4 linked regions of the Homo sapiens genome follow. The protein of the gene in region 4 purifies or fractionates together with the protein of the main gene of each other region. This does not show direct contact. Each region holds a gene or a part of one and is shown on either strand. Other genes may lie near its edges. The genes, in order: RMND1, ATP9A, CD63 and RETREG3.

Region 1 (7,026 bases), on a different chromosome or scaffold from region 4:
GATAGATCATACTAAGGAAAAATGCCTTTTCTCCTGTAACATACTGATTGGAGATTAAAGCTATAAAAACACAGATACATTTTACGTTACCAAGATCACGCTTTATCCTGTAAGTTTTTCTGACTACAACCTATAAATCATTAAACATAGTACATATACACATATATGCTTACACACCAATTGCCACAAAAGCTTCACAAACCAGTATTTACGTTTATCATGAGCAATGTATTCTGTTATTTTCTATTCTATTTCATTTTTCAAAAAAATGGTTAACAGTCCACCAGTGATTCTGTAACACAGTGCTATTAGCCTGAAAACATTCTCCCTGGTGTCGGGCTCCATGCCACTCAGACCTGCCGTTCCCATCCTCTGCTGTTCTCTTCAAAGACTGGACATTAACAAGAAGCACTGCTATTATTGTTTTCTTGTTTGTTTAGTGACAGGGCCTCACTCTGTCGCCCAGGCTGGACGGAGCGAGGTGCAGTCACGACTCACTGCAGCCTGGAACCCTGGAGCTCAAGCGATCCTCCCACCTCAGCCTCTTGAGTAGCTAGGACTACAGCTGCGCACCAGCAAGCCCGGCTTTTTTTTTTTTTTTTTTCCAAGTCTTTTAGAAATGGGAGTCTTGCTATGTTGCCAGGCTGGTCTTCAACTCCTGGCCTCAAGTGGTCTTTCTGTGTCAGCCTCCCAAAGCACTGAAATTATAGGCATAAGCCACTGGATCCACTATTGCTTTTAGGAATTGTAAGCCAAAGGGATGTGGGTTGAGTATCTCAGATTATGATCTCTGAAAATGAGACCAGGTAAAGATTTAATTCCAACAGACAGGGTGACTGAAACCTCATTCAGCCAACTCCAGATGCACGCTGTTCTGCAGAGCTGAAAAGATGAGCTGGGTGCAACTATGGGAACAAAATAAAGTCCACATGCTTTCTGACACAAAGCAGAGTCTTTTCCTTGTCTCAGTCAAGAATGGTATAAAGGGTTTACCATTTTGATGGTATAAAGTGGTATAAAGGGTTTACCACTATGATGGCCGTATAAAAATGGAGTGGCCCTCAATTTCGGGCAGAGGAAAGTCAGTCTTTGGTCCTGGGGACATATTACCTAGTCATGCCAAGACTGCTTTCTCTATGAAAAGTAAAATCTTCAAAAAATGATGTTCCAAAATTACATTATCTCAGACCACTTTAGAAACATGATTTTCTTCTCTTTTTTTGAGACAGAGTCTCACTCTGTCACCCAGGCTGGAGTGCAGTGGCATGATCTCAGCTCACTGCAACCTCCACCTCCCGAGTTCAAGAGATTCTCCTGCCTCAGCCTCCCGAGCCGCTGGGATTACAGGTGTGCACCACTACGCCTGGCTAATTTTTGTATATTTGTAGAGACAGGGTTTCACCATATTGGCTAGGCTGGTCTCGAACTCCTGACCTCAAGTAATCGCCTGCCTGGGCCTCCCAAAGTGTTGGGATTACAGCTGTGAGCCACCGCCCAGCCAGAAACATCTGATTTTCTATTATTTCCCTGTGCTTTCAGAAAGACAGCATGCGACTTGCTCTTGCCAAACTCCAACTGAAGTCATTGTCTATCATGTTACATAATGTCTCCTATAACAGAATCCATGAAATAACTAACTCCTTAATTTCAGTGCTGGAAAAAGTTATTTCTCTGAAGATATTTTTATGTTTTTACTCTGCCCTCTCCCACAACAATAAACAACAAACACTAAATCCCAGGAGGAGTTCCTCTTTTAATTACTGCGCTTCTCAAAACAAAATGTTCAACTAGATTATTCATTTCAGGTACTTCATAACATTTCTCTGTTCATGTCAACTATTTGCTCTAATATGTGAAAGTATTTATTATCTCATTTGAAACTATGTTGAATGTTGAAAATCTACTTCAAATTCTTTCCTGGAAGGAAGTAGAAAAAAAAATCTAAAGAAAAATAGATACGGTATTTAGGAAAATTGCTTCCAAGTCTAAGGATGGCCCAAAGAAATAGCCTAGGGACATCTCTGACCTATCAGCTTCTTCCTAAGAAACCTGATGCACTGTGCTGCTAGACGTTACAAATGAACAAAGTGAGTTGAGCTTTCTCTTTTTTGGAGCTGCCATGAATTCAGGTTTTTACACTTAATGCCATCTCGGACACTTAAATACTGAATTTCCCAGGTTACCCCAAAGCTCCAGCAAAAGGAAAGGGGAAACAGTAGCTGCACAACACTTCATCCTTCACGTCCTGAGTTCAGAGTAACCACACAAGAATTGAAAGCATTCCAGAATCCAACACAAAAACCATTCATTCATTGCTAGATTCAGAATCAGAGGATGAGTAAAGGTATGTATGTATACCTTTCCAAGGGGTGTCAGCTGCACAGTAATAAAAACACAGCCAAAATGAAACAGGCTCAGGGGCTACTTTTCAGAATCAAGACTTGAAGACAGACATTCTAACCTGTTTTCTGATAGATTCAGAAGTCTTCATCAAGTTTAAAATATCTTTAAAGTTGATGACTATCGGCATTAAAGATCCTCTTATAAACATTTAAGTACAAGGTACAGTTCTAGGTATTATGCAAGATACAAAGGTTATCAAGGGCTTGATCTTGACCCTTAAGTTGTTACTGAAGGAGAAATGCAAATTGTAGCAGAAAAATTCCCAGAAACCCCTTAAGGATGAATAAAAAATACCCCCTTAAACCTTAAGAGGATAAAAAAGCTGGGCCCTCCTCTCCTGCTGCTTTTGGAGTCCACCCTACCGTGTCATTTCACCGCCCCATGCAACTGCCACAGCCTAATAAAGGCTTATCTGTCTGCAGAGTTACAATTTTTTTTAACTTGATGAAGAATTTCTAGTTTGTTTTTTTTTATTTTATTTTTTTTTACAGTCCCATTCTTAGACTGGACTTAATATTGGTCCTCTTTTTCAGTTTCCTTAGACCAATAACCAAATCTTTTATAAACTCTATTTTCATGTGTTATCACCTGTATTTTGTTTTTATATGTATCATTAATTGTTAAAAATTAAGATTCTGAATCCCTTTGGATATTTATTAGGCTTCAAAGACCTTGATGAAGAAGTCTGAGTGACTGCTAGTTCTCTTACGTTGGCGGTAAGGCTGGGGTGCAACGCACACTGGTTTAGCATGAGCAATGATCACTAAGCACGAGAGCCACGGCCACCCCTACTTTACCTCGTTCACAGACAGAACTGGAAGGTTGGTCCTGGATGGCTGTCTGGTCCTGGATGCTTTTAGTGGTCTCTTCACCTGTGGGAAGTCTTGTTTTGGAACAAATGTTTCCGTTGATACAGATGAGAAATGCCTCTTTAATATTTTTATAAACCATTTAGAACCCAACAGATTTGGTTTGTGGGTCACTCTCCTGTGAGTACCAAAGGATTTCATGGTTGGAAGGTGTGCCTTTTCATCTTGGCAACGAGCAGCATTTAATGGAGACAGCATGCTGGTATCTGACTTTTTTTGGTTCATTTCCAGGATCTGAGACTTATTCAAACCACTAGCTGTTTTATCAGGAAGGAACAAATCCAAGCTTTGACGTATTGTCAGTGTGCTGCATGTTGTATTTTCAAATTCCTTAAGTGGTTTTAACATTAGATGACCGATTCTTCGGCACTGATGTGCTTTTGATAATATATGATGAGATCTGGCCACGGCTCTGAGGAGTGTGGCTGGCATTACCACATCCCAAGCTAAAAGAAAAGGAATTCAAAGTTCAAGTTTTTAAATTAATGTTTAAAACATATATAATATTTCCCTAGGTAGCAGGCATATTTCTGTTAGAAAAATTTGTAAAACAGATACATTCTAAGTTAATTCTAGTAAAAGAACAAGGTTAAAAATATAAGTACAGTGTTTCTGCCACTTTGCCTTTAGCAACATTTGGCCTTCTTCCTGGAAGATTACAAGATTATAAAGCTACTGACATAACAAGAACCTTAAAAAAAATAGTGATGGGACCACTTCATTTACTTCATTAGCATATCAAGTATATAAAAATCTGTGCTGGCCAGGCACTGTAGCTCACACTTGTAATCCCAGCACACTGGGAGGCTGAGGCAGGTGGATCGCTTGAGTCCAAGAGTTCCAGACCAGCTGAGGCAACATGGTGAAACCTCATCTCTACAAAAATGACAAAAATTTAAAAATTAGCTGGGTGTGATGGCAGCTCATGCCTGTAGTCCCAGCTACTCACAGGCTGAGGTGGGAGGATCACTTGAGCCCAGAAGACTGAGGCTGCAGTGAGTCATGATTGTACCACTGCATTCCAGCCCTTTTTCTGTCTCAGGAAAAAAAAAAAAAAAATCAGGAAAGGTTCCCAGAAAGATCTAAGCTGATTCTAGAAGGCGAAGGTGCTTTTCAGCTTGGGGCTGGGCATGGGAGTGCGAGGCATGTCAGATACACACATGAACATTCCAGACAAGGTAAACAGAATTTCCCCCTTATTTACAGTATGAAATGTGTTATTTTAAAGTTAGCCTATAGTAGGCCACACATGGTGGCTCACGCCTGTAATCCCAGCACTCTGGGAGGCTAAAGGCTGGGGGGATCACTTGAGGCCAGGAGTTCAAAACCAGCCTGGCCAACATGGCAAAACCCCATCTCTACTAAAAATACAAAAAAAAATTAGCCAAGCATAGTGGCTTTAATCCCAGCTACTCAGGTGGCTGAGATATAGAATCGTTCAAACCAGGGAGGGAGAGGTTGCAGTGAGCCAGGATTGCCCCACTGCACTCCAGCCTGGGCGACAGAATGAGACTCTGTCTCAAAAAAAAAAAAAAGTTAGACCGTAGTAATCAATAATTCTTTTTTTAAAAATAATATGTTAGGTGCTAGAGATAGATGAATCAATGATCTCAGAATTCAAAGTCTAGCAGAGGAAAATGAACGAGATGCACAAATTGCTCTAGTCCAGAGAAAGGAGCATGTGAAGAGTGTGGCATTGTCACAGAGGTGACATTTGAACTGAGTCTTGAAAGGGCAGAAGGATCAGCAAGTTAAACACCCCAGGCATGGAGTCCTATTCATCTCCCCATCTCGGGGAGGTAGGAGTGAGCTGCAGGAGGTAAGGACCAAAAGAGCCGATGGCCAGATCACCAAAGGATATATAAAGTCATCCTAAAAAGTTTCTACAGGTGGGGAGAAAGCTGAGCTTTTAACTCAGAGTCACACGGTCAAATGCATGTTCATGAAACAAATTTTTGGTGATGATATGTAGGAGGAAACAAGACAGACTCTGACATCACTCTGAGCGCTTTCTACATGCTAAGTGCTCGGCTTCACCTCATAATGATCCCATTTCACTGATTAGGAAACTGAGGTTTAAAGAGGCTAAGTGCTCACCGTTAAGAAGCTGCAGAGATGTAACTAAAATAAAACCCAGGCTTTCCCAATTCCAAAGTCAACACTCTTACCCACTACCTTGTATTTACTACCTCTCTTCAGGATAAGGACAAAGATGATTCACAGTGATATTTAGGAGGTAGAACCTGCTGCTTCCAAAATCCCTTCAAAAGCTCGCATTCTGTGCTTCATTCTAGTCCAATTGGCTACTGTAGTTCACCTTTAATTAGTACTATGCCATGCCAGTTGAACCACTTAATTTTGAAGAAACTATAAAATATTTTAGAAGTTTGTCTACAGTCCTGGATTCTTTTTATTCTCTTTGAGTAAATTCTTTTTTTTTTTTTTTTTTTTGAGATGGGAGTCTCGCTCTGTCACTCAGGCTGGAGTGCAGTGGTGCCACCTCAGCTCACTGCAACCTCCGCCTCCCCGGTTCAAGCGATTCTCCTGCCTCAGCCTCCCGAGTAGCTGGGATTACAGGTGTCTGCCACCATGCCTAGTTAATTTTTTTGTATTTTTAGTAGAGACGGGGTTTCATTATGTTGGCCAGGCTGGTCTTGAAATCCTGACCTCAGGTGATCCACCTGCCTTGGCCTCCTAAAGTGTTGGGATTACAGGCGTGAGCCACCGGACCCAGCCCATTTTTATCACTGCACCTTCTAGAAAGCCTAAGATTACATTTGTGCCTTACACTGTTTTTCTATCAGACAGGGCCCTATTGTCATTATCAATACATCGGACCTCCTCATCTCAGTTTCATCCATTTTACTCTCTAAGCACCACCTCCTATCTTTGCATCTCACTCCTTCTATTACCCAATTCCAATAATTCTTCAACCCCAACAGGACCCACAAGTCAATGATCCAACCACCTTTTCACTGTCTCTCACTCCCCATGACTTCACTTCCTCCATATCCAGTTTACACTCCATGGTCTACCATTCTAACCTCTCCCTTATACCCCTAGAATCCCTTGCATCCCTTTCTTCCCAGTCTTTCCCATTCATGAGCAGTAATAAGTATCTTTATAACTGCTAAGCCAAAAACGTGGGGTCCAGCTTGACTCTTTATTCTCCATATCCAACTTCTCAGTAAATCCCAAGGGCCTTCTAGGGACCACTGCTCATCATCAGTAATAATACTACCTGATCCAAACTGCTATCCTTCCCATGGATTATTATAATAGCTTCTTAACCAGTTTTCCTGATTCTGTTTTGGGCCCCCTACAGTTTCTTCTCAACACAGCAACCAAAGTGATCCTTTGAAGTTGAATCTCAACGCGAAATCTAGCTGTGGCTTCACGGTTCACTTAATAAAAGCCAAAGCCCTCCAACCAGGCATGGCGGCTCACGCCTGTAATCTCAGCACTTTGGGAGGGATCACTTGGGGTCAGGAGTTCCAGACCAGCCTGGCCAACACGGCGAAACCCCGTGTCTACTAAAAATACAAAAATCAGCCGGGCATGGTGGCATGGGCCTATAATCCCAGTTACTTGGGAGGCTGAGGCACGAGAATGGCTTGAATCTGGGAGGCGGAGATTGCGCCACTGCACTCCAGAATGAGCAACAAAGCGAGACTCTGTCTCAAAAAAAAAAAAAAAAAAAAAAAAAAAGCCTGGCGCGGTGGCTCACGCCTGTAACCCCAGCATTTTGGGAGGC
Region 2 (7,026 bases), on a different chromosome or scaffold from region 4:
ACCCCTCCACCCCTTCAAAGGCAGTCATAAAATACAGCCAGCCCTTATCACTGACTTTCAACATTTCCATCTGGGTAAAGACACTAAAAGAACATTCTGTTCTGAGAAGTAAGGGACAAAAGTCCAAAGATGGCCGGTTCCATGCCTTGCCTCCTTTTTCCAACTTATTGCATGCAAGACAGAGGTCAAGGTCAAAGGGTGCCCCCATCTCCTTGCGGACTGGACTACAGGGACCTCCTCTCGCCAGCCAGCTGTACAGTAGGTAGAAAGAGCCCTTTTGGGCTGGGCGCAGTGGCTTATGCTTGTAATCCCAGCACTTTGGAAGGCCAAGGCGGGCGGATCATGAGGTCAAGAGTTCGAGACCAGCCTGCAGAACATGGTGAAACCCCGTCTCTACTAAAAATACAAAAATTAGCCAGCCATGGTGGCCTGCACCTGTAATCCCAGCTACTCAGGAGGCTGAGGAAGGAGAATCGCTTGAACTCGGGAGGCGGAGGTTCCAGTGAGCCGAGATCATACCACTGCACTCCAGCCTGGGCAACAGAAGGAGACTCTGTCTCAAAAAAGAAAAGAAAGAGCCCGTCTGCAAGGAAGCCCGGCAGGCACGGCACCCATGTCCACACTCCATCCTTCAGAGTCCCTCTGTGGGTTTGCAACAACACATCTTCTGGTCTCCACGTGGGCAGAGAGCAGCTAGTCTGGTTTTGGTCAGCACAAGGCAGAGCAAGGGAGGACCTCTGTAACTGAAGGGGATGGCGCAAGTGCAGCTGGGCGCTGGCAGAGGACAGAGAGCACAGCCCCATGGGCCGCTGCCAAGCTCCACTGTTCTCATCCCAGGGGGGCAAAGAGCTGTTGGTGCAACTCTCTCCTCCAGCCCAGAGAGGGGAAGGTCGGTGGCTGAGGAGGGGGGTGTCTCTGGGTTTCACCCACCAGCACAATCCCCTCCCTCAAAACATACCCCTATATGCTTGGTATCTAATACTCCCTCCACCACATCAAAGAAAGGATGTTAAAATGTACACACACGGCCGGGTGCGGTGGCTCATGCCTGTGATCCCAGCACTTTGGGAGGCCGAGGTGGGTGGATCACCTGAGGTCAGGAGTTCGAAACCAGCATGGCCAACAGGGCAAAACTCTGTCTCTACTAAAACCACAAAAATTAGCTAGGCGTGGTGGCGGGTGCCTGTAATCCCATGTACTCAGGAGGCTGAGGCAAGAGAATCGCTTGAACCTCAGAGGCAGAGGTTGCAGTGAGCCGAGATCGCACCACTACACTCCATCCTGGGCGACAAGAGCAAGATTCTGTCACAAAAATAATAATAATAATAAATAAAATTAAAAAATAAAATAAGATGTACACACACCCCTACATGCCACATATCTAATACTATCTCCACTTTGTCAAAGGAAGGACATTGAAACACACACCCACCCCACTATATACAATTGATCCTCATAATTTATAATTTCTGTATTTGCAAATTCACCAAATCCCTCAAACTTGTAATCCCAAATCAACAGCTGCAGCCCCTTCACAGTCACTAATGGATGCGTGCAGTGTAGCCAAAATGGTGAGTTGCTCCTCCCTGCCCCGCCCCCAGACACACACATTCCCAGCTGAGGTGACACAAGGCTTCTCATTGCAGCTCTCACACTACAAATAGGAGTCATTTTTGTGGTCTCTTACTGCCACGATTTGTGCATTTTTGTGCTTTTCCCTGATGGTTTTGCAGTTTAAAATGGCCCCTCAGCACAGTGCAGAAGAACTAGTATCTCTAAGCACAGGAAGGCTGGGATGTGCCACGTGGAAAAAATACACGTGTCAGATAAGCTGCCTCCAGGCGTGAGTTACAGAGTTGTTGCCTGTGAGTTCGATGTTAATGAATCCATAACGTACATTAAATATGCGGTTTTTAAAAAACAGAAACACACCTAAAACGAGGTTCTTCATTGATCAGTCAACAAAAATAATGTGACCAGAGCCTCTCAGGAACCTAACCCCATATTTCCCCTAAGAGCAATGGTTCCATATTCGAAAATTCAGTGCTCACAACGACTGAAATAAAGAATGTAAGTACTGGGCAGGGCACGGTGGCTCACATCTGTAATCCCAGCACTTTGGGAGGCCAAGGCAGGCGGATCACCTGAGGTCAGGAGTTCGAGACTAGCCTGGCCAACATGGCGAAACCCCGTCTCTACTAAAACTACAAAAATTAGCCGGGCATACTGGTAGGCATGTGTAATCCCAGCTACTTGGGAGGCTGAGGCAGGAGAATCACTTGAACTGGGAGGTGGAGGTTGCAGTGAGCCAAGATCACGCCACTGCACTCCAGCCTGGGCGACAGAGCAAGACTCCGTCTCAAAAAAAAAAAAAAAAATGCCAGGTGCAGTGGCTCACGCCTGTAATCGCAACACTTTGGGAGGCCGAGGCAGGCGGATCACAAAGTCAAGAGATCAAGACCATCCTGGTCAACATGGTGAAACCCTGTCTCTACTAAAAATACAAAAATTAGCTGGGCGTGGTGGTGGCGCAGGCCTGTAGTAGTCCCAGCTACTTGGGAGGCTGAAGCAGAGAATTGCTTAAACCCAGGAGGCAGAGGTTGCAGTGAGCCGAGACTGCGCCACTGCACTCCAGCCTGAGTGAGAGTGAGACTCCGTCTCAAAATAAAAAACAAGAATGTAAGTCCTGAGAGTAATGAGAGTCCTACCTAACACCACCTCCATCACATCAAAGAGAAAGGGCATTTTTGTTTCCTTATCAGTAAAGCAAGAATAAAAAAAATTACCAACATCAAAGGGCCATTGTGCAGCATGAAAGAGGAAACATGAGTTCAGAGCCAAAACACTGCAGGTCCTAAATAAATATTCATCTTTTTCCTCCACCGTCAGATAATGAGTCACATAAACATGCTGACATAAGCTCTATGCTCTCAGGCAAAATGTAGGACCTCTGAAATGCCTCTGATGCCTCCACCCAGGTGGCGGGCTTCCTGTCTAGATTCCAGTCCCCTTTGTGGGATGGAAAGAGGAGCACGACAATCCGTTCCCAGGGTCTGCAGCACACATCGGTGTGTGACAGCTTCTCCTCATTGTTGTAACAAATTAGCACAACTTTGGCCGGGCGCCGTGGCTCACGGCTGTAATCCCAGCACTTTGGGAGGCCAAGGCGGGCAGATCACGAGGTCAGGAGATCCAGACCATCCTGGCTAACACGGTGAAACCCCGTCTCTAATAAAATACAAAAAATTAGCCGAGCGTGGTGACAGGCGCCTGTAGTCCCAGCTACTCGGGAGGCTGAGACAGGAGAATGGCGCGAACCCGGAAGGCGGAGCTTGCAGTGAGCCAAGGTTGCGCCACTGCACTCCAGCCTGGGCGACAGAGCGAGACTCCGCCTCAAAAAAAAAAAAAAATTAGCACAACTTGAGTGGCTTAAAACAATGCAAGTTTATTACCCTACAGTTAGGTCCGAAGTCCAAAATGGGCCTCATGGGACTAAAATCAAGGAAGGTGTCAGCAGAGCCGTGTTCCTTCTGGAGGCTCCAACCGAGTCCGTTTCCTTAACTCTTCCAACTTCTAGAGTCCCCCGCATTCCTTGGCTCATGGCCCCTTCTTCCCTCTTCAAGCCAGCAGTGCAGCCTCTCCCAATCTTTCTCTTATGCTGACACTCACTCTCCTGCCTGTCTTTCGCTTTTAAGGACCCTGTGATAACACTGGGCCGGGCCAGGGTCAGTGGCTCACACCTGTAATCTCAGCATTTTGGGAGGCCAAGGTGGGCAGATAACTTGAGGTCAGGAGTTCAAGGCCAGCTTGGCCAATACGGTGAAGCCCCGTCTCTACCAAAAATACAAAAATTAGGCCAGGCATGGTGGCTCACGCCTGTAATCCCAGCACTTAGGGAGGCCAAGGTGAGCGGATCATGAGGTCAAGAGATCGAGACCATCTCGGTCAACACGGTGAAACCCCATCTCTACTAAAAATACAATTAGCTGGGCGTGGTGGCATGCGCCTGTAGTCCCAGCTACTCCGGAGGCTGGGGCAGGAGAACTGCTTGAACCGGGAGGCAGAGGTTGCAGTGAGCCAAGATCACACCACTGCACTCCAGCCTAGTGACAGAGCAAGACTCTGTCTCAAAAAAAAAAAAAAAATTAGCTGGGCGTGGCGGCGGGAGCCTGTAATCCCAGCTACGCAGGAGGCCGATGCATGAGAATCGCTTGAACCCGGGAGGTGGAGGTTGCAGTGAGTAGAGATCATGCCACTGCACTCCAGCCTGGGTGACAAGAGCGAGACCCTGTCTAAAAACAAACAAACAAAAAGATTTAAGGTGATATATCCACAAATGGCTTTTTTTTTTTTTTTTTTTTTTGAGACAGGGTCTCACTCTGTTGCCGAGGCTGGAGTGCAGCGGTATGATCAGGGTTTACCGCCACCTACGCTTCCTGGGCTCAAGCACTCCTCCTACCTCAGCCTCCCAAGTAGCAAGGACCACAGGCTCAAGCCACCATGCCTGGCTTTTTTTATTATTATTATTTATTTTTTGTAGAGACAGGGTTTCACTATGTTGCCCAGGCTGCTCTTGAACTCCAGGGCTCAAGCAATCCTCCTGCCTGGGCCTCCCAAAGTGCTGGGATTACAGGTGTGAGCCACCAAGCCCAACTGAAATTCTATTACACAATAAAAAGAAACTTCAAAAACTTCATGCTAAATTAAAGCAGCCAGACACAAAAGGCAACACGTGGTGTGATTCCATTGATAGACAATTTCCAGAAAGGGCAAACCTATGGAATCAGAAAGCGGATCACTGGTTGCCTGGGACTGGGGCAAGGGCAGGGATGAATTGCAGATGGGCTGGAGGAGACTTTCGGAGGTGATGGAAACATTCAAAACCCATGCCGGAGTGATGGTTGCATAACTCCATACACCTGGTTTTTTTTTAATCAATGGTTTACATACTTTTTTTTTTTTTTTTGAGATGGAGTCTCGCTGTGTCGCCCAGGCTACAGTGCAGTGGCGCGATCTCGGCTCACTGCCAGCTCTGCCTCCTGGGTTCACGCCATTCTCCTGCCTCAGCCTCCTGAGTAGCTGGGACTACAAGTGCCCGCCACCACACCCAGCTAATTTTTTGTATTTTTAGTAGAGATGGGGTTTCACTTGTGTTAGCCAGGATGGTCTGGATCTCCTGACCTCCTGATCCGCCCACCTTGGCCTCCCAAAGTGCTGGGATTACAGGAATGAGCCACCGCACCTGGCCAGTTTACATACTTTCAATAGATGTATGCTATATAAATTATACTTCAATAAAGCTGTTTAAAACATTGTGGTAGACAACATATCTATTCAGTTCTTCTTTCTCAATCTGATTCATATTCAAAACTTCCTAGTCCCCCAAATCCAAATATATCAAGCATCAAAGCATCCTCATCCAGTGTGGCCACCCACAAAACGTAGATTGTTACAATGAGGCAAAGTCTTGGGCCACCTGGTACCTAAGCTCCCATCCTTGCCACAACATCACACCAGGGCCTCGACATACCTGGACAGAATGCTCTACATAGTTATTCATTTTCCTAAATTTGATCAGGAAAAAGCAGTGAAATTCATATTTCTAAATTTCTCATAAAAGGCCCCTCCTCTCAAAGAAGCACACTGTAGACCCCAACGGTAAACCTCATGCAAACACCTAAGGATTACCATTAGCCCTAGTAAACACCTAAGGCATACTGAGCACTTATTCTCCTAAACTTTACATGGACTAAAAAACTATGAGATACATAATTATTGATATTCCCATTTTACAGATGAAACAACTGAGACTCAGAGAGGTAAAGTTATTTTCCCAAGATCACACAGCTAGTAAGCAGCAGAGCCTGGGTGTGAACCCAGCTCCTCAATGGACTCCTGCGTCCTGGCTCCTAACAAATAATCCCTGCCATTTCACCACAAGAGGAGCTCCATTCAGCCATAAGCAAAGGGCATGATGTCATAAAATGGTTTCCAGCAATGGAGGTGAAATGCCTTGTTTCCTAACTACACCATTTCAAAAGTTTTCTCAACATCAGGATGTGGTAACTTTCTCAAGAGAGAAAAGAACTTTGAAGCCAGGAGATTCCTCCAAAAATAAGCTGCACGTCTTCGCAACATTCGCTGAGTGACCCCAGAAATAACTGCATTCTGTCCCCTATGACATGTGGCATCGTTTTTGGTTTTTTTAACCACAAATCTTCCAACCATTCCACAGCTTTATTGCCTAGAACCATTAGGTGAAATGGGTGGATCCGGTTCAAAACTGCCTCCTCTCACAACCTCCAAGACCACGAACACATTAATATCAGTGAATCTTTGTTTCCCTGTCAATAAAATGGGAGAATTTTTTTTTTTGAGATGGAGTCTTGCTTCTTCACCCAGGCTGGAGTGCAGTGGTACAATCCTGACTCACCGCAACCTCCACATCCTGGGTTCAAGCAATTCTCCTGCCTCAGCCTCCCCAGTAGCTGGAATTACAGGCACCACCACCACACCCGGCTAATTTTTGTATTTTTAGTAGAGACAGGGTTTCACCATGTTGGCCAGGCTGGTCTCGAACTCCTGACCTCGAGTGATCCGCCCACCTTGGCCTCCCAAAGTGCTGGGATTACAGGCTTGAACCACCACATCTGGCCCCTAAAATGGGAGAATTAACTCCAAAAACTCACATGGTTGTTGTAAGGATTAAAACAGCCCTATTTATCTCAAGTGTCCAGCAGACAGCCTGACCCATTACATATTACTTTTTTCTTCCTTTAACCACCCACCCACTTTAGCCCTCACGCTGCCATCCCCCAGCCCCTAGTTCTATTTCAGGAAGCTCCTCCATCTCTCTGTGCTTCTCAAGAGTTTCTAAACTTCAGGATTCCACCTTGATGTTGCTACTCCTGAAAATGCAGATTATATACAAGAGCATTTACGCAAATGCACAGCAACCCTGATACACAATTTGAATCCAAATCCATGTCACTGTTTAAGAAATAGATTGGCCAGACACAGTGGCTC
Region 3 (6,913 bases), on a different chromosome or scaffold from region 4:
TTTTCAAAAATTAAAGAAAATGTTTTTTAAACTGAAGCCCAAGAAGCATTGATCCTTCATGTATTTTTGCCTCCTCTTCCCCCATCCTTCCCCATGCCTCCCACCCTCCTCTATGTCTCTCACTTTCCGGTTTTTCCTCACCCCTCTCCCAACTCTCCTCAACTGTTCTTTTCCCTTGATTCTGGATCCCTTCTTTCTTCCTCACCTTCCTCATATCCCCTCACCCTCCTCATATCCCCTCACCCTTTCCTGTGCTTAGATGCAGGCTACAAGCTGCTGTGCATGGCACTGGGTCTGGCTGATGCCTACATGCTCTCAGAAGGCTGCAGGTTTGCTTGAGACATCTGTGGCCCCCATGCTGTGTCGCTGGGCCTAGGTGGAGGCGTGGTGAAGCTGGAGGGAAAGCTGGCTTTGCTTGGTGTGGAGGGACAAGGGTCCCCGCCTCAGCACACCTACCACCAACTGGTGCCAGGCAACCAAGAGGCAGCAGCCTGGGCCAGCCAGGACGGCTTGGTGGCATATCTGGATGTCAGGCACTTGGAACAGGTGCTGGGGGATCTGAAGGATGTGAAGGGCCAGGTCTGAGATCAGCCACTTCCCACTAAGAGGCCCCTCTATCCTGCACCCCAGCAAACACATGGAGCTCTGTGTCAACTTTCCAGGCTGTAGAAGTGGGCCATTCTTTGTGTGTATGTGTGTAGTAAAATATATATAACATAAAATTCAGGGACATTGAGTACATACACATTGTGCAACCATCAGCACCATCCATCTCCACAACATTTTCATCTTTCTTTCTTTTTCTTTGAGACAGAGTCTCGCTCTGTTGCCCAGGCTGGAGTGCAATGGCACAATATCGGCTCTACTAAAAATACAAAATTATCCAGGCATGGTGGCGCATGCCTGTAATCCCGGCTACTCAGGAGGCTGAGGCAGGAGAATCTCTTGAACCTGGGAGGCAGAGGTTGTGGTGAGTTGTGCCACTGCACTCCAGCCTGGGCAACAAGAGCAAAACTCCATCTCAAAAACAAAAACAAAAACAAAAAACCTAGATGTTTATGGTTAAGGAAACAAATTAATAATAATAAAAAAGATAATATCGATTCTTACAAAATACAGTAATTAAGAAAATTAATCCTTTATCACAAACTTTTGTAGCAGAGCACATCTCTCCATATATACAAGCATTATACCGAGGGTGAATGTGTTCCTCCTCTTACTTTTTTTTTTTGAGACAGAGTTTTGCCGGGCACAGTGGCTCACGCCTGTAATCCCAGCACTTTGGAAGGCTGAGGGGGCGGATCACGAGGTCAATAGATGGAGACCATCCTGGCCAATATGGTGAAACCCCATCTCTACTAAAAACACAAAAATTAGCTGGGCGTAGTGGTGCGTGCCTGTAGTCCCAGCTACTTGGGAGGCTGAGGCAGGAGAATCACTTGAACACGGGAGGCGGAGGTTGCAGTGAGCCAAGATGGCACCACTGCACTCCACCCTGGTGACAGAGCGAGACTCCGTCTCAAAAAAAAAAAAAAAAAAAAGAGAGACGGAGTTTCACTCTTGTTGCCCAGGATGGCATGCAGCAACACGATCTCTGCTCACTGCAACCTCTGCCTCCTGGGTTCAAGTGATTCTCCTGCCTCAGCCTCCTGAGTAGCTGGGACTACAGGCACACATCATTGTGCCCAGCTACTTTTTGTATTTTTAGTAGAGACGGGGTTTCACCGTGTTGGCCAGGCTGGTCTCGAACTCCTGACCTCAGGTGATCCACCTGCCTAGGCCTCCCAAAATGCTGGGATTACAGGTGTGGTGAGCCACTGCGCCTAGCCCCTCCTCTTACTTTGGGGAACATCCTACTCTGTCTATGGAGCAGCTGTTGTTTCACCACTTTACTTTCTTAATAAACTTGCTTATACTTTGCACTGCGACTCGCCCTGAATCTTTCTTGCATGAGATCCAAGAACCCTCTCTTGTGGTCTGGATTGGGACCCCTTTCCTGTAACAAATGCATTGGCTGATAGGAGAATAAAGAAAAAAAAAGAGGAAAAACTAGAGTAACTTCTCTACATAATCATATTATATGACCGTTTTGTTAACCATGATAACAGTTAACAAAATAATTTTCTTATGTCTAATTCTCAGTCCATGTCTGTATGTCCCAAAATGTCTTTCACAGCTGGTTTGTTCAACCATTCAATGAAGGACCAAACATTGCAGTTGGTTGTTATGTATCTAGTCTCTCAATCTTGATCTTCAGACCACCTTCAGCCCATCTCACCACATCCGTCCCAAGCCCTTTGAGCCAGCCAACCCCAACCTGCCATGTACTTTACAAAATGCTCCTTTTTTTTCCACAGTCGACTGCTTCTCTGTCCCTGGAGCTCTCCCCTTTATTCTCCAAGGTCACCTTGAGCACATCCTTCTGCTCCGTGAAATCCATTCTCCTCTCCCTTTCCCTCCCTCTGAGCTTAACCAGCTGCCACCGCAGGCTTCTGCCTTTCTTCACAGTGTGGCCAGAACTCGGTTCTGCCTGCTAGCAGAGGGCAGGGCCGCTGTCTTCCTCTCCTTGCAGCCCCCAAGCCTAGCACATGCCTGGCATCTAGTGGCAGCACAATAAGGAACCTGATGAATACTCCTTTCTTCTGCTCTCCGCTCCTCCTCCACAGCCTGCCAGCCATGGTCAGGAAGAGCAAGATCCGGAATGGGCTTGGTGTGTCCCGCGGGAAGGCCGTGATCCTGGAAGATGCTTCTCAGCCCAGCCCGGATCTCCTTCCTTTAGCTCTAGAGACTTCTTTCATTCTTTGTGTACACACATACACTAAGACTCAGGAAGTGGTTCTTGAGGCAGGACCTTAAGAGCCCAAGGAGTGGGGCCGAGGCTGGAGGTGTGGGGGTGTGACGGCCGGTCCTACTCTCCGGCCTGTTCAGATCAGCTCCTTCTGGGGACCACCCCTGGCACACAAGGGAGGGAGGCAGCTTGATCCCCCTAGCCCGCTTCCAGCCCTCACCTGGCTTTGTCTTCTGGGATAAGACGGGGAAATCCAGAGGATGTAAGCCTCTCCTGCCTTCGTGTCTTCCCCCAAGCCCTCGCTATCACAGACGGATGCAGGAGCTGTCTGGGAGGCTGGAAGCACAGACCTTGTCAATCCTCCCCCAGAGGGCGGGACCCGACGCGGACGTGTCTTGATTGACTGGGTAGCGTGGCTTCGGGGAAGGGCTTCCTCCCCTTTTCTCAGACTAGGATCCCTGGAAAATGGAGAAGCTGTGCTAATAGAGGGGGGCCAGAAATCCCCACTCTAGAATGCTGTAGAATGTTGGGAGACACCCAGGATGTGAGCCAGGGACTTTCTGGAAGTGTTTGTTCTGGCCCCACCCGACCCCAGGCAGTCCCCAGCTGTCTGCACAGTCGGATGGGGAGGGGGCTTGCACAGAGTTGGAGCCAGAGGAGAGAGCTGGCTCATCCCCTACGGTAGGATGGGGAAACCTCACAGACCACATTGTCACCCGGCCTCAGCTCTCCGCCCCGGCGCTCAGAGGGTAACTCTCACCCACCTCGTCCGCTTCTCTGAACCAGAGTGACCCAGGCTGCGCTCCGCCCCGCTCTCCTACCCCGAGTTGGCACGGAGGTATAGCGCCAGAGGGGGGCCCCAGGCGCCCCGAGGTCTTGCCCTTGCGGCTTTCCCTTTGCGGGGGTGGGCGCCTTCTTCCGGGTAGGGGCCACGTGGCCCTGGCCGGGCGGGGGGCTCGGCCCACCCCGCGCCGGGCCCAGTGACTCAGGCCGCAGCTGTTACCGCGTCACATGAGGGAGGCCGGCGGCCACTCGGCGGGGGAGGGGACCGTGGCTGGAGCCCGGGGCGGGGCCGCGCGGCAGGCGGGGCGGGAGCCGGGGGGCGCAGCTAGAGAGCCCCGGAGCCGCGGCGGGAGAGGAACGCGCAGCCAGCCTTGGGAAGCCCAGGTGAGGCCGCGGGGACCCGGCGGACTTCGGCGCGGGCTGGGAGAGACCACCCGCAGTCCCTTCCTCCAGGGCTCGCCCCAGGCCCGCGGAGACTCGTCCGGCGCTCTCCAGCCGCCCTGGAGCAACTTTGCTTCGAAGTTCCCTGGGCCCGGGCAGGGTGTGGCGGGGGTGCTGGCTGCACTTTTTTTTTTTTTGGTGGGCGGGGAGGTCAGAGCCCAGGGGAAAGGGGCTGGGGCGGGGGTCGGGGTTGGGCTGAAGACCGTTTCTCCAGGCTGGGTGTTGGGTGGGGAAAGGGTGTTTGACGCCCGGAGACTGGCGGGCCGAGGGTCGGCGTCAGGCTCAAGCCCCTGCCGGCGCCCTTGGATCTGTCCTGGGCCCCAGAGGCGGCGGGGCGGGGTCCGGGCTTCGCGGCCGTCGCCCCCACCCCTCTCCTGCGGGTAAAGAGGGGGCTGGGAGACGTGGATCCGACCGCGGGTTTCCGGGTGGGAGGGGCCGGGAATCGGGGCCGTGAAGGGAAGCCCTCGAGGGCCGGCCGGGAGCCCGGAAACCGAGGTCCCCCTTCGGCCAGTTTTAATCCCCCCGCCCTCCCCTCTGCCCCAGGCCCGGCAGCCATGGCGGTGGAAGGAGGAATGAAATGTGTGAAGTTCTTGCTCTACGTCCTCCTGCTGGCCTTTTGCGTGAGTGGCGAGGGGTCCTGGGGGGCGCGCCGGCAGGGTGCGGGGAGACCTGGCTCCACAGTGGTGAGGGCTGAGGGAATGAGAATTAAGGCAGCTGGAGACCAGATGTGGAAAGAAAGCCAGGGAAAGACAGCGCAGCCACTCCCTCCTCCAGTTTTCCTGGACACCTGAGGCTTGTTTCCACCGAGAATGGCCATCCTGGGTGTGCAGCAACCCCTACCCCCATCCCTCCTGGCCCTTCCTGTCTGGTGACCCAACCACTTGTGATATGGGGCAGTGGGGCAACCAGCCAACCGCCTGATGCTATCGCCATGGGGCTTCCCTTCGCTCTCCCTTCTCCCCTCTCTCCCTCCCCAACCCTCTCATCCCTGTCCAGCCCCTCTCCCCCTTTCCCTCCTCCCAGCGCTTGGGGGTGAGGAAGGGCTCTGCCCACTTCAATTTGCTCCTGCCCTGGGCTCCTGGCTTGAGAGGCTACTGTTTGTCTAGGGAGGGACACATCACTCTTGCTCCCTTTTCCTCTTCCCTTCTCCTGGCCTAACTGGCCAGAGGAACCTTAGTCACAGCTGATGCGCGCGTGGGATGTGCACTGGAGGATAGTGAGGGGGCAGTTCTGGGAGAGAATTGAGCTGGGAGCCCTGGAGGCCTGTAGAAAGCATTATTCTAGGTCAGAAATACGTGTCTTGAGGTCAAGGCTTTCTGGGAGGTTTTTGAATTTGGTCATGTCCCTGATTAAAGAGCCGGGAGGGGATCAGGGGAGGTAGGGGCAGGCAAGGATGGGTCATCCCCCTACCCCACAGCCAAAGAAATTCCCTAGAGGTGTGAGAATCTCTCTTCCGGATGGGGTCAAGTCTGTGTCCTAGGTGTACCCCCTGCCCTCCACCATGGAGGGCCACTGTGTTGTGGATATGGCCTAATCCTCACCTGATTTTCTCTTAGGCCTGTGCAGTGGGACTGATTGCCGTGGGTGTCGGGGCACAGCTTGTCCTGAGTCAGACCATAATCCAGGGGGCTACCCCTGGCTCTCTGTTGCCAGTGGTCATCATCGCAGTGGGTGTCTTCCTCTTCCTGGTGGCTTTTGTGGGCTGCTGCGGGGCCTGCAAGGAGAACTATTGTCTTATGATCACGGTGAGTTGGGGGCGGGACCAACATGGGCGGTCTGGGACTGCCAGAGCAGCTTGGTTCGGGCTCAGGAAGGTGGGTGAGGTGGGTGGGTGAGGAAGACCTTTGTGAGTGTCCAGGGACCGGCTGTGCCAAAACGGGCCCCTGTAATGCATAGACTCCAAACTTGACTTCTGTCCTTTGCTCCTGCAGTTTGCCATCTTTCTGTCTCTTATCATGTTGGTGGAGGTGGCCGCAGCCATTGCTGGCTATGTGTTTAGAGATAAGGTAAGCAGGGAATAATGGGAAGGGCCTGCCTCAGCCGGGTCTGGGACCCTGGTGCTTGAATTCTGACTGCAACAGTGCTCCTCCGTACTCTCAGGTGATGTCAGAGTTTAATAACAACTTCCGGCAGCAGATGGAGAATTACCCGAAAAACAACCACACTGCTTCGATCCTGGACAGGATGCAGGCAGATGTGAGTGGGGTTGCTGGGAGCAGGGGTGGTGGGAATAGAGAATTCTCATCTCCAAGGCTGGGTGTGGTGACTCACGCCTGTAATCTCAGCACTTTTGAAGGCCGAGGTGGGCAGATCACCTGAGGTCAGAAGTTCAAGACTAGCCTGGCCAACGTGGTGAAACCCTGTCTCTACTAAAAATACAAAAATTAGCCAGGTGTGGTGGTGAGTGCCTGTAATCCCACCTACTCAGGAGGGTGAGGCAGGAGAATCGCTTGAACCCGGGAGGCGGAGGTTGCAGTGAGCCGAGATTGAGCCACCGCTGGGCACTTGTCTGGGCAACAGAGCAAGTCTCTGTCTCAAAAAAAAAAAAAAAAAAAAAAAAAGAATTCTCATCTCCATATTGAAGGTGAAGGTTCACTTAACAACCTTCTTCTCCATATTTCTTCCCTCCCCCAGTTTAAGTGCTGTGGGGCTGCTAACTACACAGATTGGGAGAAAATCCCTTCCATGTCGAAGAACCGAGTCCCCGACTCCTGCTGCATTAATGTTACTGTGGGCTGTGGGATTAATTTCAACGAGAAGGCGATCCATAAGGAGGTAGGGAGGAGACTGTGTATGGGACTTGGGAAACCTGGGAAATGTTTTAGAATGCAAGAGACCCAGGATGGAGGTGGACAGGGTCAGGGATGGGGAGGGGATCTGGAAATGCTAAGGGTGGGGTGA
Region 4 (6,386 bases):
GATCTGTTCCACACTTTGTGTCCAAGCCCTAAGGACCAATAGCAGCGCTACAGTTGGGAATGTTTTTTGCAGCCCCTTCTCCATTTTGTCACTGTTTCCCATGCCTCCTCACAGTTGTCACTGTCATGATGTGGCCCCTTGCTGTGTACCACCGACTGTGGGATCGAGCATATGTGCGGCTGAAGCCAGCTCTGCAGCGGCTAGACTTCAGTGTCCGTGGCTACATGATGTCCAAGCAGAGAGAGAGACAATGTAAGTGTCATGGTGTCATTCTTTCCACTTACGCAATTTGGGGCGAAAAGGAGAAGCCCATAGGTCTGACATACTGGGTGGGTCCTCAAAAGTGGAAGTCGGGGGTAGTTGGTGGGGGTGAGGATTGATAGGTAAAAATGATATTCTGTTCTAGGGAAACCTGTGCAGGCTTGCCAGTTTTTATCATTTGTAATCCTAGGCTCCCGTTTTAAACCTATCTGATAAAAGCTCTTTCAAGTTGAATAAAAGCTAGACAGTGAAGATAAATTCCTAGTATTTGTGGTTTGTTTTTTTTTTTTTTTTTTTTTTGAGACAGGGTCTCATTCTGTTTCCCAGGCTGGAGTGCAGTGGCATGATCATGGCTCACTGCACCCTTGACCTCCCAGGCTCAAGTGATCCTTCTACTCAGCCCCGCCAAACCCTTCAGTAGCTGGGACTACAGGCATGTGTCACCACATCTATCTGATTTTTAAATTTTTTTGTAGAGATGGGGTCTCATGTTGCCCAGGCTGATCCTGAACTCCTGGGCTCAAGCGATCCTCCTGCCTTGGCGTTCCAAAGTGTTGGGATTACAGGTGTGAGCCACCGTGCTGAGCCCAGAGCAGATCCTTTCAACTCCTAAGCCTGGTCTCTTCACTAGTAAAAGCTGCCTCCCAAAGGTGATTAAAAACTGCTGCCTCAGAGGTTGTAAGTGTACTAGCCTGAGATCCATGCAACACAATGATGGTAGTACAAACTTTTCCCTCCCTTGTGTGGTCTTGTCAGGTTTTGTGTTTTATGGAGGCCTGGCCTTCAAAGAGCCCTGCACTTGGTCACCAAGGCCCAAGTCCCCTTGGGGCAGCCAGTTGAATAATACCAGTCCTCAAAAGTCTGATTTAACAAGGTGTGCATCTCCTTTTGCCCTCTCTTTGATCATGTCCACTTAACACCTTGACATTAGGTCTGCCTTTAGCCATCCAGAGAGTTGTTGACAAAGCCTGGTATTTGATCATCTGACCAGAATAGAAATGTGTGCCAGGCCGGGCGCAGTGGCTCACACTTGTAATCCCAGCACTTTTGGAGGCTGAGGTGGGCGGATCACCTTAGGTCAGGAGTTCGAGACCAGCTTGACCAATATGATGAAACCCCGTCTCTACTAAAAATACAAATATTAGCCAGGTGTGATGGTGAGCACCTGTAATCTCAGCTACTCAGGAGGCTGAGACAGGAGTATTGCTTGAATCCAAGAGGCAGAGGTTGCAGTGAGCCGAGATCGCGCCATTGCACTCCAGCCTGGGCAACAAGAACAAAACTCCATCTCAAAAGAAAAAAGAAATATGTAGGGTCTGGTGGAGAGGATGTTGGAAGCTGAGATATTTTCTCCAGTGTTTTCAACTCACCTTGCATTTAGGCTCAGCAGCTCAGCCTTCTGTTATTATTATGTAGGCTTAGAGCCAGATTCAGAGAGGCTCTTTGTTTTGTGTTCTGATTTTATGTCTTTAAAGTCCAAAGGGGATTTTACGCTGGGAGAAGGTATCAAGCAAGACTTTGTGCTCTTCCCACAGTACGCCGCAGAGCTCTCCACCCAGAACGAGCCATGGACAACCACAGTGACAGCGAAGAGGAGCTTGCTGCCTTCTGTCCTCAGGTATCTTGAGTGTGGGAGCTGCTTCACTGTCCAGTTTTCTTTAGCTACCTTTTAACCATCCGACAGCTCACATTTAGGCCATAACCAGGTTTGAGGCCTTAGACTCCCCTTGTTCCCAAGACAAGGAGAGAAGTGAGACTTTGTTCCTAGATCTCAATTTTTTTCTTTATCATATCATTCCTGTAATCAACCTAGGTCTCAATTAGAGCCTGATGCCCAGCACCGCTCTTCCGTATCTCTTTTTACCCTACCATTATGGAAGAACTTCTGGAGCTAGTATGATCATCTTTTAAACAGCCCAGTTCACCCTTGGGTCTGTGCAGTATGTGTATCCTCCTACCACTTTGAAAAATTATCTCTGGATCAATTATTTGCCTTAAAGTAAGTGGGTAATTGACTCCCCCAAGACTGCTTTTCTTCCTGTGCTTAAGAGGTTATGAATGAGTGTTTTCTTTGGGAGAGCAGCCTAAAAGGGGTCAAGATTTTTTTTGTTGTTGTTACTTTCACATGTATTGATTAAAAAAAAAATAAAGGGGAGAGGGAGTTTTCAACGGGAAGTTACCATCTATCCCTGGTTACATTGATTTGATGGCCTTCGGATAACTAATGCTAGCTGATTAGTAAAGCTGTACCTGGTGACTACACCTGGTTCCTGATGGCATTATCTCACATTTGTTGGTCTTTTCCTAAGCTGGACGATTCTACTGTTGCCAGGGAATTGGCCATCACAGACTCTGAGCACTCAGACGCTGAAGTCTCCTGTACAGACAATGGCACATTCAATCTTTCAAGGGGCCAAACACCTCTAACGGAAGGCTCTGAAGGTGAGGGGAGCCTTTGACCTCAGTTGATAATGGCTCTGACTGTTGCCTCTTAGCTTCCCTGAACAGAGGGGATACTGGTGCTTGCCCCTCTCCTGTTTTCTGAGCTATGGATCAGGCGGCAGAGCAGCCTGAGTGCTGTGGCTACAGCCAGGATGGCACTGCTGCCCTTCTTGAAGACTTTAGTCCCTTAGTAGCCTCAGGCACTAGCCTCACAGGGGACATAGAAGAGAGGGGGAATTGTGTAGAGATCACAGCCACCTATAAGTGGAGGGGAAAGGTATACCAGTCCCATGGGTTTATTTCGCCCTGAGAAAGCCAGGGTGGGAAAAATCTGGTCATGTGGGGCTGGGGCACAGGAGGGCCAGGTAGGTGCCATGACTCAGACACTTCTGTATTCCACCAGACCTAGATGGTCACAGTGATCCAGAGGAATCCTTTGCCAGAGACCTTCCAGACTTCCCTTCCATTAATATGGATCCTGCTGGCCTGGATGATGAGGACGACACTAGCATTGGCATGCCCAGCTTGATGTACCGTTCTCCGCCAGGGGCTGAGGAGCCCCAGGCCCCACCTGCCAGCCGGGACGAGGCTGCGCTGCCGGAGCTCCTGCTTGGTGCTCTTCCTGTAGGATCCAACCTCACCAGCAACCTTGCCAGCCTGGTCTCCCAGGGTATGATTCAGCTGGCCTTGTCAGGGGCCTCCCAACCAGGCCCTTCTGGAGCACCTGCCCAGAGAGCAACGAGAGGCTTCCTCCGGTCCCCCAGTTCAGACCTGGACACTGATGCTGAGGGGGATGACTTTGAACTTCTGGACCAGTCGGAGCTGAGTCAGCTGGACCCTGCCAGTTCTAGGAGCCACTGAGGCAGAGACTCCTTTTGGGAGTCACTGTGGTTTAGGTTTTTTTCTCCCCATCCCACTTAAGGTGATGGGGCAAGGGAAGAACTCAGCTCCCCTCCCCTGAATTATATTTGTATGCTGGGTGGCCTGGCTGATGCTCAGAGGCCTCCTTAGAGAGGACACTCACTCCCCTCCCACCAGCTGGATGCCCATTTCTGAGCTCAGTCACTGAAGTGAGAGTGTGCTCCCCCAAGGGAGGCTTCTCTCCATCAGGATGGTACTTTGGGGGAACAAAATAGTCAGGGATATTGGTTCCCCTTTGAGGAGGTGCTGCTGTTTGCTTTTAGGTATGAGTGCTCAGGGGCCCTCACTGAAAGAGCCCATGCCTGCCTTCCTCCTTTCATCGCCTCTCTAGAGCCCCCAAAGTCAGGCAGCAGCTGGAGTAGTTACATTGTCATCATCTTTTTTTTTGAGACAGTTTCGCTCTGTTGCCCAGGCTGGAGTGCAGTGGTGTGATCTTGGCTTTCTGCAACGTCTGCCTTCCAGGTTGAAGAGGTTCTCCTGCCTCAGCCTCCTTAGTAGTGGGATTACAGGTGCCCGCTACTATGCCCGGCTAATTTTTCTTTTGGTATTTTTAGTAGAAATGGGGTTTCACCATGTTGGCCAGGCTGGTCTCAAACTCCTGACCTCAAGTGAGCTGACTGCCTTGGCCTCCCAGAGTGCTGGGATTAGTCGTCATCTTTTGTTAAACCAGGATTTGATTTTTTTCTTTTCTTTTCTTTTCTTTTTTTTTTTTTTGAGACAGAGTCTCTCTCTGTTGCCCAGGCTGGAGTGCAGTGGCACAATCTCGGCTCACTGCAGCCTCCGCCTGCCGGGTCAAGCGATTCTCCTACCTCAGCCTCCTCAGTAGCTGAGATTACAGGCATGCACCACCATGCCCGGCTAATTTTTTTGTGTTTTTAGTAGAGATGGGGTTTCACCGTGCTGGCCAGGCTGGTCTAGAACTCCTGACTGCAAATGATCAGCCCGCCTCAGCCACCCAAAGTGTTGGGATTACAGGTGTGAGCCACTGTGCCCAGCGTGATTTTTTTTTTTTTTTAAAGCAAACTTGTCCTTTGGTTTTGCAGAACAGGCCTGCTCCCTCTCATCTAGCCCATCATTTCTTGGGGCCTGAACCCCAGTGGTCCAAAGTATTGCTTGTGAAATTTAAAAAATGTGAATATGATGTGGGGATGGGCCTCTTCTACATTACCTTGGCCCAGGGGGATCAGCTGGCTGGGAGGATTAGTGAGCACCTCTGTATTTTGAGGTCTGAGTCTTCTGGAGCTGTGTAGTTAATCTTCGGTTTCTGATAACCCCTGGGTCCATCTGGCCATCAGCCTCAGCAGTGAGCAAAGCAATACCATACTCATTTCTATGTTCCTGTTCCTTCCTCTGCTCCTCCTTTGGAGAAGCAATAATTCATGGGGGATGATACAGTAGCACTTTACAAATGGCTCCATGTCATTCATCCCAGGGGCCATAATCTCTTGCACCACCTATTCTTACTTCCTGTTCAGCTCCTTTACAGCTTTTATTTTCAACTGCTTCCCAACTTGGTGGGGCCTCCTTTAAGGATGAGCCAATAGTAAGAATGTGGCTGTAATCAGCAGAGACCCCTCTGAGGGGTATCTGTTCTGCAGCCCCTAGTGAAATCATGTGATGTGAGACAGAAACCTAAACATGGTACTTGATTCTAAACCTGTGCCAGTCTATAGCCTCTGCCTCCCCAAGCAGAGCTCAAGCCAAACGCTTCTGTCCTCTTTCCTTCTGCATTAACCCTTTGCTGATCCTCAGGGGCCACTCCCCCAACACCCCTGTACTTGGGTGAGGGATGTTGGACAGAGCCTGTTTTCATGTACTGCAGGTGGGGGTGTGCTGACATGTTTGCTCTTGGTTGATGGAGAAGGTACAGAGGCCAGGGAGTGAAAATGGTTGACAGAAGAGGGAAGAGTTAGGTGTCTCATAGTCACTCATAGTGGGGTGGTCAGGGGTAATGGCATCTCCCCACTTTAGGCTTCTCAAACAGACTTTTGACACCTCTCAAGTTCAGAGCTCTGATGTGGAAAGACAGGAGGTGTGGGGAAGGAGGGGGATTTCGTGTGTTTGCATGAGTGTGCGCTTCAGGCCTTGGGAGTTGGCAAGAGGGAGGGAAGGAAGGAGAGCAAAATCTTCGGAAGGTGTTTCTTGTACCTGAGGGATCCTGCCCTGAATCTCCATAGTCTCCACTGTGAACTGAGGAGGGGAGGGGTGTGCTGGGGAATAAATCTTGTATGAGAACAATCTTTAAGAGACTGATGCTGAATGGTGTCCTACCCTTGATAGGTCTTCTCTTGTAAATCTGAGTTCTGATTAATTTGAAGTGATAGCCTTAAAAGAGGAAGCCCAGGTATGAGGGACCCACCAGCCCACCCCTATTTTTACTTCGTGATGGCCAGAACATCACCATAGTATGAGGCTACTTTCCTTCTTGTGAGAGCCCCACCATCAGTATAACTGGCACTCTTGGCTAGTATTTAGCCTGTATTTCCTTCATTTCTAATTTCTTTTTTTTTCCTGAGACGGAGTCTTGGTCTGTCGCCCAGGCTGGAGTGCAGTGGTGCGATCTCTCACTGCAAGCTCCGCCTCCCGGGTTCACGCCATTCTCCTGCCTCAGCCTCCTGAGTAGCTTGGACTACAGGCGCCCACCAGCACGCCTGGCTAATTTTTTGTATTTTTAGTAGAGATGGGGTTTCACAGTGTTAGCCAGGATGGTCTCGATCTCCTGACCTCGTGATCCGCCCGCCCTGGCCTCCCAAAGTGCTGGG

The links.
Region 1: the proteins of RETREG3 (region 4) and RMND1 purify together in Homo sapiens (affinity purification with mass spectrometry; 4 studies listed by BioGRID and IntAct, with this or other methods). This does not show direct contact.
Region 2: the proteins of RETREG3 (region 4) and ATP9A purify together in Homo sapiens (affinity purification with mass spectrometry; 4 studies listed by BioGRID and IntAct, with this or other methods). This does not show direct contact.
Region 3: the proteins of RETREG3 (region 4) and CD63 purify together in Homo sapiens (affinity purification with mass spectrometry; 4 studies listed by BioGRID and IntAct, with this or other methods). This does not show direct contact.

The regions. Positions count from the first base shown.
Region 1 is NC_000006.12:151,442,108-151,449,133, forward strand, and holds part of RMND1 (required for meiotic nuclear division protein 1 homolog), read right to left. Parts: intron 3,719-7,026; 5' UTR 3,705-3,718; coding exon 3,201-3,704; intron 1-3,200. UniProt on the Homo sapiens protein: Required for mitochondrial translation, possibly by coordinating the assembly or maintenance of the mitochondrial ribosome.
Region 2 is NC_000020.11:51,758,365-51,765,390, forward strand, and holds part of ATP9A (probable phospholipid-transporting ATPase IIA), read right to left. Parts: intron 1-7,026. UniProt on the Homo sapiens protein: Plays a role in regulating membrane trafficking of cargo proteins, namely endosome to plasma membrane recycling, probably acting through RAB5 and RAB11 activation. Also involved in endosome to trans-Golgi network retrograde transport.
Region 3 is NC_000012.12:55,725,995-55,732,907, reverse strand, and holds the start of CD63 (CD63 antigen), read left to right. Parts: upstream 1-3,898; 5' UTR 3,899-3,955; exon of another isoform or gene 3,956-4,112; intron 4,113-4,201; exon of another isoform or gene 4,202-4,392; intron 4,393-4,553; exon of another isoform or gene 4,554-4,555; 5' UTR 4,556-4,566; coding exon 4,567-4,632; intron 4,633-5,007; exon of another isoform or gene 5,008-5,044; intron 5,045-5,068; exon of another isoform or gene 5,069-5,296; intron 5,297-5,568; coding exon 5,569-5,757; intron 5,758-5,943; coding exon 5,944-6,018; intron 6,019-6,112; coding exon 6,113-6,208; intron 6,209-6,646; coding exon 6,647-6,787; intron 6,788-6,913. UniProt on the Homo sapiens protein: Functions as a cell surface receptor for TIMP1 and plays a role in the activation of cellular signaling cascades. Plays a role in the activation of ITGB1 and integrin signaling, leading to the activation of AKT, FAK/PTK2 and MAP kinases.
Region 4 is NC_000017.11:42,578,991-42,585,376, reverse strand, and holds the end of RETREG3 (reticulophagy regulator 3), read left to right. Parts: intron 1-114; coding exon 115-252; intron 253-1,796; coding exon 1,797-1,879; intron 1,880-2,570; coding exon 2,571-2,703; intron 2,704-3,106; coding exon 3,107-3,564; 3' UTR 3,565-5,862; downstream 5,863-6,386. UniProt on the Homo sapiens protein: Endoplasmic reticulum (ER)-anchored autophagy regulator which exists in an inactive state under basal conditions but is activated following cellular stress.